Linked DNA regions of Homo sapiens: region 1 is linked to region 2. Evidence: fine-mapped expression QTL. A gene starts in region 2. The other region holds a variant in brackets. All regions are shown on one strand. Distances are from middle to middle.

What was found.
Region 1: its variant is fine-mapped to the expression of ZNF530 in tibial artery (GTEx, PIP 0.98).

What each region holds. Positions count from the first base shown.
Region 1 is chr19:57,645,608-57,648,526 of GRCh38, reverse strand. No RefSeq gene overlaps it. Among named protein-coding and RNA genes, the nearest start is that of ZNF211, 14 kb to the right of the region's middle. The variant T/GAGCTTCTACCAT (reference allele first, on the strand shown) is at 1,635.
Region 2 is chr19:57,598,349-57,601,267 of GRCh38, reverse strand. ZNF530 (zinc finger protein 530) reads right to left here and starts at 1,383. Exons shown (of 4, transcript NM_001321981.2): 1 at 1,134-1,383; 2 at 489-540. RefSeq lists enhancers at 916-1,035, 1,126-1,335.

The sequences.
Region 1 (2,919 bases), 47 kb before region 2:
GAAGCCAAAGGGGCATTCATTCATGAGGATCATAACTCACAATCCACCCTCAGTCTGTCTTTCTTTCCAGTCAGGATGGGGACTGAAAAGTGATAGCAGAAAGAGGAAGAACAGGAGGAATGCCTAGTTCAATATGATCTTTGTAAGCTCTGTTATGTGAAGTGTCACCACAGAGGGCAATGAAATCTAATGGAGATGTTTTCAGTGCATTTTGGCAGGGAATAGAGCTGGGAATTTAGTATAATAAGGTCTAATGGCAGGAAAAAGACCCATCTATAAGACCATATGCTATTTCATAATTTCTACTAAGTTTTAAGTAAGCCATTGTGGCATTCTATAAAACCAGCAGCCTGGGACTGATTGGAATGTCGCAAGTTCTCTCAAATGCTTTGTCTAAAATGAGAGCTTTGTTCACCGCTGTTGTCGGGAACTCCAAAGGGAATAGGAGCGTTTTGTGGTGCTGTATAGTAGCTTCAGCAGTGCCATGTCTAGTGGGGTAAAGTAAGATGTCGGCGGTAGGCATCAACCACAGTCAAAGCATAACAAGTGGCACTGGTAGACAGAGGCAGTGGCCTGGTAAAATCTACCTGCCACATGACTAAAAGTGGGATCCAGAATAGCACACCTCAGTTGTCTTGCCAATGACAGGTATTCCCACAGAGTGCACTGACCCGTCATCATGTTGGCCATGGTAGAGGGGTGGGGAAACACTTTGTGTTTAGCCCCAGTCTTCAAGATTGGGTTCCTCATAGAGGTTCCTCTATGACTGTTGTTTCATGGGCCTATTGGGCCAAAAATAAAGGAATGGGCCTGGAAGGTCATCCAACAAAGTTTTGGTCCTAGTTTTTGAAAATTGTTGTAATCTACCAGCTTGGGAATTAAGTTAGGCTTCAGCAGTCTGAGCCTTGGTGTGGGCGGAGACATACATGATCTTAATTTATATCTTTGATATCTGAGAGGCAAGAAATTCCTGAAGTTGTTTACCCCAAGAGTATGATCTTGAACGAGAAATTGTTGCCATTGGTTGCACCAAATGACTAGAAGTGTAATTGAGGTAATTTCTTGGCCAAGGTAGCCTCCAGCGCTAAAATGACTGCCTGCAGTTCCCATCCTTCAGCAGTGTGTCTTGTTTAGAAGAAAAGCAGCAGACCTCCAGAGAGCTCCAGCTCATGTAGTGGTGGCATTACTGTCAACAAAGTATGTGTTCTCCCCTTGTTGTTTACTTACTTGATTCCAGGGCTGCCAAGGGCCCAGGAGAGAGGAGACTTCCTTCACCATGGCATCTGGCAAGAGACTGAGGACAGAGAAGGCCACCTCTTTTTCCAAGTGAGATACACCAGGGGGCCCAGGTTTGGCTCCATCCTGTATCAAGGCCTTGGTGATCAGGCTGAGCTTGTAGGTGTTGCTTTCATGACCCAGGTAATAATGTGTAACTGGGTGGAGTGTGCCATGGTTCAGGTCCTGTGAGAGCTTCTGTTTCTAAGAGGTCCCAGTATGTAGCTGGCAGTTGTTGCTCTAATTGCATGTTACATGAGGACAAAACAGGCAGTTTTTTGCACCAGAAGCCCATGGGCAGCTTATGGCCAGATGTGTGGTCCAGAGTCTAAGAAGAGAGTCTAGTGGGTAGTCCACCA[T/GAGCTTCTACCAT]GAAGGAATCTCCAGGAGGCACTAAAGGAAATGTCTGTTATATGGTCATCTGAACTGACTCTAGGGCCTTCTGTTGTAAAGGCCTCCAAAAGTGGGCTGTTTTGTGGATGGGTGAATAAATAGGCCTGAGTGGTATTTGTAAATGGAGACTATGTTGCCTCCAGGAGCAAAAGAGACCCAATAGGTGCTTGGCCAGCTTGGGATTGGTTGGAGCTGACAAAGTTAGAAGTTGCCTTCTAACAGTATCAGAAATGGAGTAATGCTAAGCACACCAGATGATGTGCACCTCAAGTGATCTGCCCACCTCGGCCTCCCAAAGTGCTGGGATTACAGGCGTGAGCCACTGCGCCCAGCTGAGAACTGTTGAAATCACCTTCGAAGGTGAATGTGTATGAGAGGCTGTTGGAATAGGTAATGAATAGAACATATATAACAGGAAAGTATTTGCCAGTGGAATAATGAATGGCTTTGTTCATGTCAACTATGTGAGGTATAGGGGATTTAATGGGTGAGACCAAAGTAGCAGAAATCTACAGTGAAATACCGTTTAATTACATTCTCTTATTTTGTGTACTAAAACTTTTCTAGAATGTTCCTTCAGTTTTTACTTCATGCTTAAATTTTTCTTTCAAATACATATAAATTTAACATACTTTCTGTTCTACCTGTGTAACACTAGAAGTAAACACTTATCTATGATTGATGATCCTTCTGGAGATAGCCTGATTTACTTGAAAACAAACAGTAGCATCTCTTCTGATTCTCCTCCACCTGATTTCCTGGTTGTTTGATTCATCCCACAGTGCTCTTCCTGGCCAAATGTCTACAGACAGCTGTGTGATCAGTTAGTGAGATGTGCTCCTCATTATCTAGCCCTGGTTCTGTGGGAAGGAGGCAACAAGTAGCTATTTTCTTCCCCAAAACATTAGTGCTATTTGTACTTTCCGTTATCACAGAATGTACCAAATATATAATATGGACAACTAAAATGTGACTGAGAGTTCTTTATCAGTAAATCCTAATAAATCCCAATGTATTTGCACTAGAAAACTTTATGTTACAAAATCCCAGAGGATTCATAATGAAAATAGACTTTGATTCCAAAATAAATGTTGGCAAATTTCATCTCAATTGTTAACTTCCATTCTTTCTCATGTTTTGTCAAGGCATTTTCAGTTCATGAAGATGAATAGAGCAAGAACTGCCTGTATTTCAAATATGTTGCCTACTTTGTTTTTTGGACAACTGATGTATTTAACAGAATAACTTAACTGTTAACTGTTAA
Region 2 (2,919 bases):
CTCCTCTTTCCTCTTTGGTATTGCTACCAACTCCCTTAAACCCACAGTCTGTTGTCTGTGCTCAGCCACAGGAGCCTCATGAGGCCTGGGGAAGATCACCTCCCTCTTCTGCTCCAAATCTTCATTGCTGCCATCATCTCCAGAACAAAGACATCTGAGACAGCCATTTAGTTTCTAACTCCTGTACCTCTGCTCTCTGTTCCCATGAGAAGGAAATGAGACTTGAGGTTCTCTTAACCAGCTCAGCCTCACCTCCAAGCAGCTCCAAACACCTGTACTTATCTCTGGGACAAACTTCCACATTCATCCTATTATTTGCCAGCAACAGGCACCACCTCATATAATACTCACCCTGGACATATTTTTGTTCAGAGTCCCTAGGCTCAAGGCCTGGAAAAGCGGTAAGTAAAGAATCCCAGGTCACCACAGTCCCAATCCTAGAGATCCCATTGCTGGAATCAATGAGCTTCTGGATTTCCTCCACTTACCCTTGTAGGGTCTTCAAGTGCTTCTTACGGACCTGTAAGTACTAGTGGCAATCTGTGGGAGGAAACATGTTCTGAGAGGCAGGTGACCAAAGTGTGGCTCCATGGACTTCTGGTTCCAATGTGGAACACCAGAGCCAGGTGTCCAGGGATGACTGCTTTGTATCTGGGTGTCAGTCCTTGGTGCTGACTTTTACCAGCTTTGTGACCTCGTAAAAAGACTAGGTCCCTCCATGCCTGCTATCATCACTGCCCTTCCAGCGCGTTCCTCTGAACAGCTTTTGTGAAACTTTTAGAAGCGTGACTGGGGCCGTGCCCCTCTTCTGTCCTACGCGCTGTGGCCCTCAGTGTGCTGGTGAAACTCAGTGGGGCCAATGCAGCGCGGCGCTGCCCCACCCTCTGCTACCTGCACGCGTGAGGCCGGCCTGGGTCTCCCCAGCCTCCCGGCTCAGGCGCAGCTCCAAGCTGTTGCCCGCGCAGCCCCCTGACCGTGTCGCTCTCCCGCTCCCTGCCACACTACCAGAAACGAGATCCAGCACCAGCGCCTCACTGTGCCGGACAGTGCGGTCCGGGCTGCAGAAAACCCTTCACGCGTCCCTCAGTTTCGGGTGGGGAGGGCAGAGGAGGCCGGGAGGACGCAGCGCTCACCTGGGTCGGGGCCCTCAGTGCCGCCGCCATCGGACTCTGGGCGGAGCGGGCCGGGAGCGGTGGACGATCCGGGCGGAGACAAGAGCAAAGCTGTCACCACCGCCGGCGACCGTCAGGCCCCGGCTGTGCAGCTGAGAAAACGACTCTCCTCGCGCCTTCTCGCTGTCAGCACCTAGGTCCAGATCCGGCACCCGCGGATGGAACTGACACAAGCCAAAGTGCCCGCCACAGGGAGGACGCCGGAAGTTCCGCTCCGACAAGTTGGACAGAGCGGAAATGTCCCTCCCCTGAGCCTCATTGGCTCCACGCCAAGAACCTGGCTCACGGGCCTCTGGGTAATGTAGTTCTCACCGCTTCTTGGGCTGGCAGAGGTCGCCCTTCTCCTGGACCTCAGGGAGGAATGACCCCGTTGCTATGGAGAAAGGTGGAGGGGAAGGCTGAGAGGTGGTGTCTCCAGCCTCCTTGGACAAGGGAGGAGCTTCGCTGCTTTTTTAAGGTACCATACAGAGATTTTTGGAGGGTATTGTGTACAACTAGTCACCTAGGTAGTCAGAGTTATTCAGATACAAAATGCCTCTACCCTTGGCGAGAGCCTAGTAAACATTACCTTCTTTCTCCACACATTTATGTAAAGTAGAACGTTAGAGTCAGCTTTGTGAGTTTCATTATGCTCAGTAAGGAATAAGGGAAATAGAGTTTACATAGCGCCATGACAGGAATGATAAAACATCCGTTAGATCGCACCGAAGCTGGAGGACGAAAGAGGAATTTTGTCTCACAGAAAATGCCTCTCCTGCCTGTGTAATCGGTGAGTGTGTCTAGCCCTGTAAGGAACAGTGTTGTATTCATATAATATTTCTTCCTCCATATTCTTAGATATGCTTCTTTTAGGATTGTAGCAACTTTCTAAACAGAAGAGCCACTTAGCATATGCCATTTTAAAGTAGAACAGTGTCTGTAGTGTTCACAGTCAGAGCACTTGTGCAAAGGGGACATCAGAATACCAGAATAAAGGTTTGGGACACCTAGCTTTCATCTCTTTGATGGGAAATTTTGATCATTGATACTGTTACTGCAGGGACAGTGCTTGCATGGGGAGTTGAGATCATCTTAGAAAAACAGTTGTGAAATGAAAATTACTGAAACCTATTGTATTAGTCAGGATTCTCCAGAGAAACACAGAACCAATAGGATACATAGATGTACAAGAGGGGATTTATTATGGGACTTGGCTCATCCAGTTATGGAGGCTAAGAAGTCCCAGGATATACCTTTTGCAACCTGGTAAGACACGAAGGTGGGTGGTATCATTCAGTCTGCATCTGAAGGCCTGAAAACCAAGGGAGCCTATGGTGAAATTCCCAGTTGGAGGCTGAAGGCCTGAGAACTGGGTGAGGGTCATTCTTGTATGTTCCAGAGTCCAAAGGCCCAAGATCCAAGAACTTTAATGTTGGAAAACAGAAGGTGGATGATCCAGGGCAAGAAGAGAGTAACTTGCTCTTTCTCTGCCTTTTTGTTCTATCTTGGCTCTCAAAGCATTGGATGTTGGCCCCTAACACTGATGAGGCCAGATCTCCTTTACATTGTCTACAGACTCAACTGCTAATATCTTCCATAAACATTCTCACAGACATATCCTGTACTAAGGTTTTCCCAACTATTTGGGTAGCCCTTAATGCAGGCAAGTCGACACAAAACATTATACGTCACAACTATTAATAATCTTGTGGCTAGGCCAAGCGCGGTGGCTCATGCCTGTAATCCCAGCACTTTAGGAGGCCAAGGC